Homo sapiens: one gene and its partner. The protein of the gene in region 1 purifies or fractionates together with the protein of each later gene. This does not show direct contact. Each region holds a gene or a part of one and is shown in the gene's direction. Other genes may lie near its edges.

What was found. The genes of interacting proteins can lie anywhere in the genome.
Region 2: the proteins of NPDC1 (region 1) and TBC1D23 purify together in Homo sapiens (affinity purification with mass spectrometry; 3 studies listed by BioGRID and IntAct, with this or other methods). This does not show direct contact.

What each region holds. Positions count from the first base shown.
Region 1 is NC_000009.12:137,039,520-137,043,269, reverse strand, and holds part of NPDC1 (neural proliferation differentiation and control protein 1 precursor), read left to right. Parts: intron 1-196; coding exon 197-343; intron 344-2,082; coding exon 2,083-2,208; intron 2,209-2,285; coding exon 2,286-2,456; intron 2,457-2,532; coding exon 2,533-2,599; intron 2,600-2,671; coding exon 2,672-2,756; intron 2,757-2,833; coding exon 2,834-2,913; intron 2,914-3,202; coding exon 3,203-3,299; intron 3,300-3,405; coding exon 3,406-3,498; 3' UTR 3,499-3,750. UniProt on the Homo sapiens protein: Suppresses oncogenic transformation in neural and non-neural cells and down-regulates neural cell proliferation. Might be involved in transcriptional regulation.
Region 2 is NC_000003.12:100,263,892-100,267,541, forward strand, and holds part of TBC1D23 (TBC1 domain family member 23), read left to right. Parts: intron 1-3,650. UniProt on the Homo sapiens protein: Putative Rab GTPase-activating protein which plays a role in vesicular trafficking. Involved in endosome-to-Golgi trafficking.

The sequences.
Region 1 (3,750 bases):
ATAAGTCCTAGGACTGTTCGCTTCCGGGTTCTGAGCCCTGGCGTCAGGGAGGAAGGGCATGTCCAGAACAATGGCCAGAACCAGGCCCGGCCAGCTCGGGGGGTGACGGGGGCGGGTGGCTGGGGCAGCGCTGCCGTGTGCAGGGGCCGAGCCCTGCGGGGCCGTGAGCCGGCCCTGCCTTCTGCTTCCTTCCCAGATGTAGCCGCCTGTCCCGGGAGCCTGGACTGTGCCCTGAAGAGGCGGGCAAGGTGTCCTCCTGGTGCACATGCCTGTGGGCCCTGCCTTCAGCCCTTCCAGGAGGACCAGCAAGGGCTCTGTGTGCCCAGGATGCGCCGGCCTCCAGGTACGAGAGCAAAGGGGGAAGTCGATGGGGGGATGTCCCTGCATGAACCTCTCCCTGTAAGAAGCGGCCGGCTGGGCGCGGTGGCTCATGCCTGTAATCCCAGCACTGTGGGAGGCCCAGGCTGTTGGATCTCATGAGGTCAGGAGTTCAAGACCAGCCTGGCCAACATGGTGAAACCCCGTCTCTACTAAAAATACAAAGTAGCCGGGTGTGGTGGCACACACCTGTAGTCCCAGCTACTCAGGAGGCTGAGGCAGGAGAATTGCTTTAACCCGGGAGGCGGAGCTTGCAGTGAGCCGATTCACCACTGCACTCCAGCCTGGGCGACAGTGCGAGACTCTGTCTCAAAAAAAAAAAAAAAAAAAAAGAAGGCCGGGAGCAGTGGCTCACGCCTGTAATCCCAGCACTTTGGGAGGCCGAGGCGGGCACATCATAAGGTCAGGAGATCGAGACCATCCTGGCTAACACGGTGAAACCCCATCTGTACTAAAAATACAAAAACAAAATTAGCCGGGCGTGGCGGCGGGCGCCTGTAGTCCCAGCTACTCGGGAAGCTAAGGCAGGAGAATGGCGTGAACCCGGGAGGCAGAGCTTGCAGTGAGCCGAGATCGCGCCACTGCACTCCAGCCTGGGCGGCAGAGCGAGACTCCGCCTCAAAAAAAAAAAAGCAGCAGCCTGCAGCCTCAATGCCCAGGCCTGTGCCAGGTGGTCTTGGGGCCCCTGGACCTTGTGGGGTGTTGGGTCCAAGGCCTGGGAGATCCTCATTCACTCTCCACGAAGCCTCCCATCCTTTCCAAATGGAGGTGGGCCCAGGCCTGGGGCAGTCAGGCCCTCCCAGGAGAAGGGCTGCACGATGTGAAATGCTGGGATGGCCACGGGAGAGGAAGGGCCCATTCTCCCCGGGCCTGGGCTCTGCAGGGTCTGCCCAGAAGCCCTCCAGGCCCCCACTTCCCCGTCCCCAGGCAGCTTGCTCTTTTCCACCACTCACTGTCCTGTCCGCCTGTTGGCAAATGTTGAAGGGTGCCAGCACTGGCTGGGTGCTGGGGATGCCCCGCTCGCCAGCCTGAGCCGCATCTGTCGGGATGGCCAGTCACTGAGTGACTTCAGGTGTGGTGAGGGCTTTGCTCAGAGGTGCTGGGGGTGGGAGCAGCAGCGGCTTCCTGGAGGAGGTGTTGAGAGGAGCACCGAGAAGTGGCTGTAAGGGTCTGTGTGGATGCACCTCCTGCCAACCTGGGAGCGTCCACCCAGACTGTGCAGCCCACAGTGGGTACCGGTGGAGCCCTGCCACCAGCCCCACCCCTGACAGCTGCCCCCGTTCTCCCAATGACCTGGGGAGGGGTCCCGGGTGCTTGGCTTCCTTCGGCTTCCCCCCACTCCTTGGGGAGTCCCTGCCCCTCTACCCGAGAAGGTGCTTGGAGGTGGGGAAGCAGAAGGGGCTGTGCTGGCCAGCCCTTTATGGACATGGGTTGGGGCGAGAGACCCCACTCCTTCCTCCCCGTGCCCGGTCTTTGGACGTTTCCCTAGCGCCTCCTCCCTTGCCCTGCCTCCACTTTCCGGGAAGCACTGCCCCTCACAGGAAGCGCCCGCGCTGTCACCATGGCAATCTGGGAGGGAGAGGGCCTCCAGGCGTGTACCCAGTCCTCAGGCTCCTGGGAGGAACCTGCCAGAAGCGGGGAGGCCGGGCCTGGGGCTACCTCCTGGACGGACCCCTCCACCTGATGGCCCCTCACCCTCCCCAGGCGGGGGCCGGCCCCAGCCCAGACTGGAAGATGAGATTGACTTCCTGGCCCAGGAGCTTGCCCGGAAGGAGTCTGGACACTCAACTCCGCCCCTACCCAAGGACCGACAGCGGCTCCCGGAGCCTGGTGAGACCCCCGCTTCCCCTGCCCCACGGCCCTGTCCCTAGCCCAGTGCTCTCATTCTAACCTGTCCTCTCTCGCAGCCACCCTGGGCTTCTCGGCACGGGGGCAGGGGCTGGAGCTGGGCCTCCCCTCCACTCCAGGAACCCCCACGCCCACGCCCCACACCTCCCTGGGCTCCCCTGTGTCATCCGACCCGGTGCACATGTCGCCCCTGGAGCCCCGGGGAGGGCAAGGCGACGGCCTCGCCCTTGGTAGGTCTTGGTCGGGGGTGGGCAGGGGCAGCAGGGCGCCCTGCAGAAGGCCGCCCTCACACGCCCCCTCCTGCAGTGCTGATCCTGGCGTTCTGTGTGGCCGGTGCAGCCGCCCTCTCCGTAGCCTCCCTCTGCTGGTGCAGGTGAGCCAGTGGCCGCGGGCAGGGCAGGGAGGGTGCCACACGCTCAGAGGTCTCAGGCCCCACTCCCCACAGGCTGCAGCGTGAGATCCGCCTGACTCAGAAGGCCGACTACGCCACTGCGAAGGCCCCTGGCTCACCTGCAGCTCCCCGGATCTCGGTGTGTGGCCCCCTTCAGCCCTGAGGCTCCCGCCCAACTCTGGCCGCCAACTGACCCTCGCCTCCTCCTTCCCACAGCCTGGGGACCAGCGGCTGGCACAGAGCGCGGAGATGTACCACTACCAGCACCAACGGCAACAGATGCTGTGCCTGGAGCGGTGAGTGGCCGCCCCGGCACTGCCACCCCCACCCACCCACCCCCCATCCCCACCTCCACCTCCATTTCCACCTCCCCTGGCCAACTTTACCCCAGGCCCTGCCACCCTCACCTGCACGCTAACCTTCACCTCCCCCGCCGCCCTGCACCCTCACCTCCCCTGGCCAACTTCACCCTGGGCTGTGCTCCCCTGCCACCCCAGGGCTGAGGTGGGCTGAGTGCCCACTTCCAGACTGGGCCACTGGCACCTCGAGGGCATGGGGAGGACCCAGCGATCCCCCCCCACCCAGGCATAAAGAGCCACCCAAGGAGCTGGACACGGCCTCCTCGGATGAGGAGAATGAGGACGGAGACTTCACGGTGTACGAGTGCCCGGGCCTGGCCCCGGTGAGTGCCTCAGGGTGCAGGGAGGGGCGAACCATCTCCTGGGGTTCCCTCCCAGCAAGTATCCCCCCAGCCCACCCACTGCCCAGCCTGACACCCACATTCGCAGACCGGGGAAATGGAGGTGCGCAACCCTCTGTTCGACCACGCCGCACTGTCCGCGCCCCTGCCGGCCCCCAGCTCACCGCCTGCACTGCCATGACCTGGAGGCAGACAGACGCCCACCTGCTCCCCGACCTCGAGGCCCCCGGGGAGGGGCAGGGCCTGGAGCTTCCCACTAAAAACATGTTTTGATGCTGTGTGCTTTTGGCTGGGCCTCGGGCTCCAGGCCCTGGGACCCCTTGCCAGGGAGACCCCCGAACCTTTGTGCCAGGACACCTCCTGGTCCCCTGCACCTCTCCTGTTCGGTTTAGACCCCCAAACTGGAGGGGGCATGGAGAACCGTAGAGCGCAG
Region 2 (3,650 bases), on another chromosome or scaffold:
CATTTTTTCTCTTGTAGGATTGATGTATCTTTGGTGTGTCTTTGTATTTTTGCTGGTTTCATTTTCATGAATGGAGGAACCCTAACATGGTCGGTGATTTCTGTTTTCCCTCCATCCTCTTCTAATCTTTCTCCTTTTTATCCTGGCACTCTCATCAGCCCCCCAGAAGAGGATTTGAATAGGAAGACTTTGGGATTGGGAGCCAGAGGTTCAGTAAAGGCTCTGTTCTTAGAGTGCTTGGTGAATGGGTTATAGAATGGGGATGCTTTACTCTTGTTTTGTTTTGTTTTGTTGAAGAAACGAGGTCTCGCCATGTTGCCCAGGCTGGCCTCATACTCCTGAGTAGCTGGGGACTACAGGTGTGCCCCATCCATCCGGGTGTTCTACTCTGTCTTTCTCTCCCCTCCCCCTCCCTCCCTCTCTTTCTTTATCTCTCTTTCTTTTTGGAGTAAATGTTTTTATTTTAACTCTGTCAGATGGAATTTTTTCTAAAATGTATCATATATCTTACTGCCTAGCTCAAACTCATCTTAATGACTTGAGTCATTCAGTTTACAAATGTAAGTGTAATTTAAGGATAGAACTAGGTCTCTGTCCTCAGGGAATTTATGTTCTAGATACAGGAGGCATGTTTGAGAACATCGATTACTTTTGTGTTATTGTAATGTGGTGAGACTTTTAGGGCCTATCTAGACAAATTGTTGCTATGTTAAGTGACACAGCTATCCCTTTTTGAGATTGCTTTTTATAAGTTTTTCCTATTTTCTTTTTTTGTTGTCAGTGGTATCTCAATTTGTTCCTAGTCTGTGAAACTAAGCCATTGAACTTGTTGAAATTGTATATACATTCTTAAAAAGGCTCAGGATGGACCTTGAAGATCTTAAAAGTATGTGGACTCTATGACATTGTTTTTGCTGATTTTCAGTTATGTTCTAGTTCACTGCTTCTCAAAATTTAAACGTACATTGGAATTATCTGGGGAGCTTGTTAAAATGCTCTCCAGGTAACTGTGATTGTGATTCAATATATTTTGAGGTGGAACTTGAGAGTCTCTGTTTCTGACTAGCTGCTGGGGGTTGCCAATTCTGGTGGTTTATGGACCACACTTAAGTTAGCAGGGTTCTAGGTTATATATATATCAGAATGAGTAGGTCAGAGGAATTTGTATATGTCACATTGTATCACCTTACATGTTATACTAAAATATGTGTAATTACATGACTTATCATTGTTCTTTAGATAATGAACTTCTCAAGGGCAGTGGCTGATAAAAGGCAGGTGTCTCAGTAAATGTTTATTGAATGAATGTACGCATGAATGAAAACTTTCCTGTAATTATGTGCAATAGCATACTAAGCTGTCATTTCATATAAATTTCCTGACTCCAGTGTTTTTGTGAGCTGTGGAATTGTCTGTTGGTATAATGCTTATTCTTTATGGAAAGCCAAAGTAATCAGAAAATGCCTCAGCTTTCAAGCTCCCTGGGATTCAGCCATGTAAGCTCAAAGGGTGTGGTGAAATTCTTGTAAAAATGCTTATAGTTAGTTTTAAGTGATTTGAATTTAATTTTAAAAAATTAATATAAGTTATGAGAATCTGGATTTGTAAAATTAAACATGTTAAATTGTTACAGTGAAAAGATTGGTAATTACCCTCCTTGGTATTGAAGAAACTAGCACTGGATTTGAACATATGTTCTCATTTTCCGATACTTTCTTCCCAAAATAATGTCTAAAGATCTATAGTCATAATTAAAAAATTATTTTGGTATTGACTTCAATTATATAACTGTTGAAATTGGGAGTTTGTTTAATTAAAAAATGTTACTTAATATTCAACTTTTAATTAGGGTTTTTTATTGCTAAACCTTTCTTAAGTTATTGCTAAACTTTTCTTAAAATTGTAAAAATATTAATTCCACAAAGAATCTTCTATTGTTGTTAATCTGAGATGTGAGTAGGAATTGTTTGAGAATAATATTTTTCAAAGTTTTCTGCACTCTGTAAATAGTACTATCAGTGTTCCCCATTTAATAAGCATTGAAATATGAGAAAAAACTTAAAATGTCTTTTAAGAACTAAGTGATTGAAATTTCAGATATGATATAATCAATAAAGAAATATATTAAATGTAAAAGAAAAAGGAACTGTTTGTCTAAGAAGGACATTGTCTACTTGTGGAACTGGGAAGGCTGGATACTACTTTTAGAAGAAATGAGAAAATGAACTTCATTTTTTGAATTGGGGTTATGATGTGACAGTTATTTGATTTTGTAAACTATAATTAGAGGGCAGGCAAAGATAAGAAATGAAAAAGACTTATTTTATACTGTTTACATTAAAGTCTTTAATTATAATTTAGATTTTAGAGTTTTTAAAGGTAATTTTTTTTTTTTTGAGACGGAGTCTCATTCTGTCACCCAGGCTGGAGTGCAGTGTGCGATCTTGGTTCACTGCATCCTCCGCCTCCTGGGTCCAAGGGATTCTCCTGCCTCAGTCTCTCAAGGAGCTAAGATTACAGGCATGTGCCACCATGCCCGGCTAATTTTTGTATTTTTAGTAGAGATGGGGTTTCACCATGTTGGCCAGGCCGGTCTCAAACCCCTGACCTCAGGTGATCCACCCTCCTCACCCTACCACAGTGTTGGGACTACAGGCATGAGCCACTGCACCCAGCCTAAAGGTAATTCTTAGGTAATAATTCACTTCTAGGATTTTGTTTCCTGTGGATGTTTTAATATCCATAATTTGAGTTAGTAATTGGTTTTTGCATGCTAAATAAATGTATTTCAATTAATTCATTTTTATCTCTGTGTAATCACTGCAGAGAGGCGACAAGTGCATTCCCTCTGTAAGTATAGTGAGCAATTCAGAGCACCCAGTTAAATATACTGTAATATGCAGCCAACTTTTAAGTAGGAGTCTTCTGGAGAGAATTGAGAAAATATGCTTGACAAAGCATTTCTGATGCACAGTGCTGAAATGTGGATTCTTTTTGGTATAAAGACAGTGCCTTCTCTCATGTGTCAAAAAGCAAAATAGAGTTTAGCAAAAACATTCTCAGTTCAGCAAACATTCACTGAATAGTGGTTATATTCAAGCTGCTGTGTAAGGTTTTAGAAAAAAATTTGAAACAGTTTTACAATCAGGAATGTGCATTGTGGTGCCTTCCTGGGATACTTTGATTTTTTTCATCATTTTATCTCTAGGAATACTGTGTGAAAATAGCTTCTGAAGATATCTAAATGCTGGTGTTTTGGAAATTACAGGCTCTAACAGAAAATAATAGGATTAAACAGTTTGAAAAGGGGCAGGGCTTGAAATGAGTTAAATATTGAGAATTACAGATGGAAAGCAGGTAAGTACCTTCCATTAAGCTCATAAAATCAAATTCTTTCTTGTAGAAATAAAGAATTTAAGAGCCACTTAAACCTATTTTCTGAAATTTAATGTCTGTTTGTTTCAAGGGTCTGCGTAACTTTTTAACCTGAGTTAAGAAAATGATGACTAATAAAGTCATTTGTTGCAAGTCTTCATCTTTTTTCTTGATGCTTAAAGGAGTTTTTTCTTATCCTTTAGCTGACATAGCATTTGATAGTTGGGTGGAAATCTTGTAGTGTTTGCTTCTTTTTTATTTTAAAGTAGTTGTTA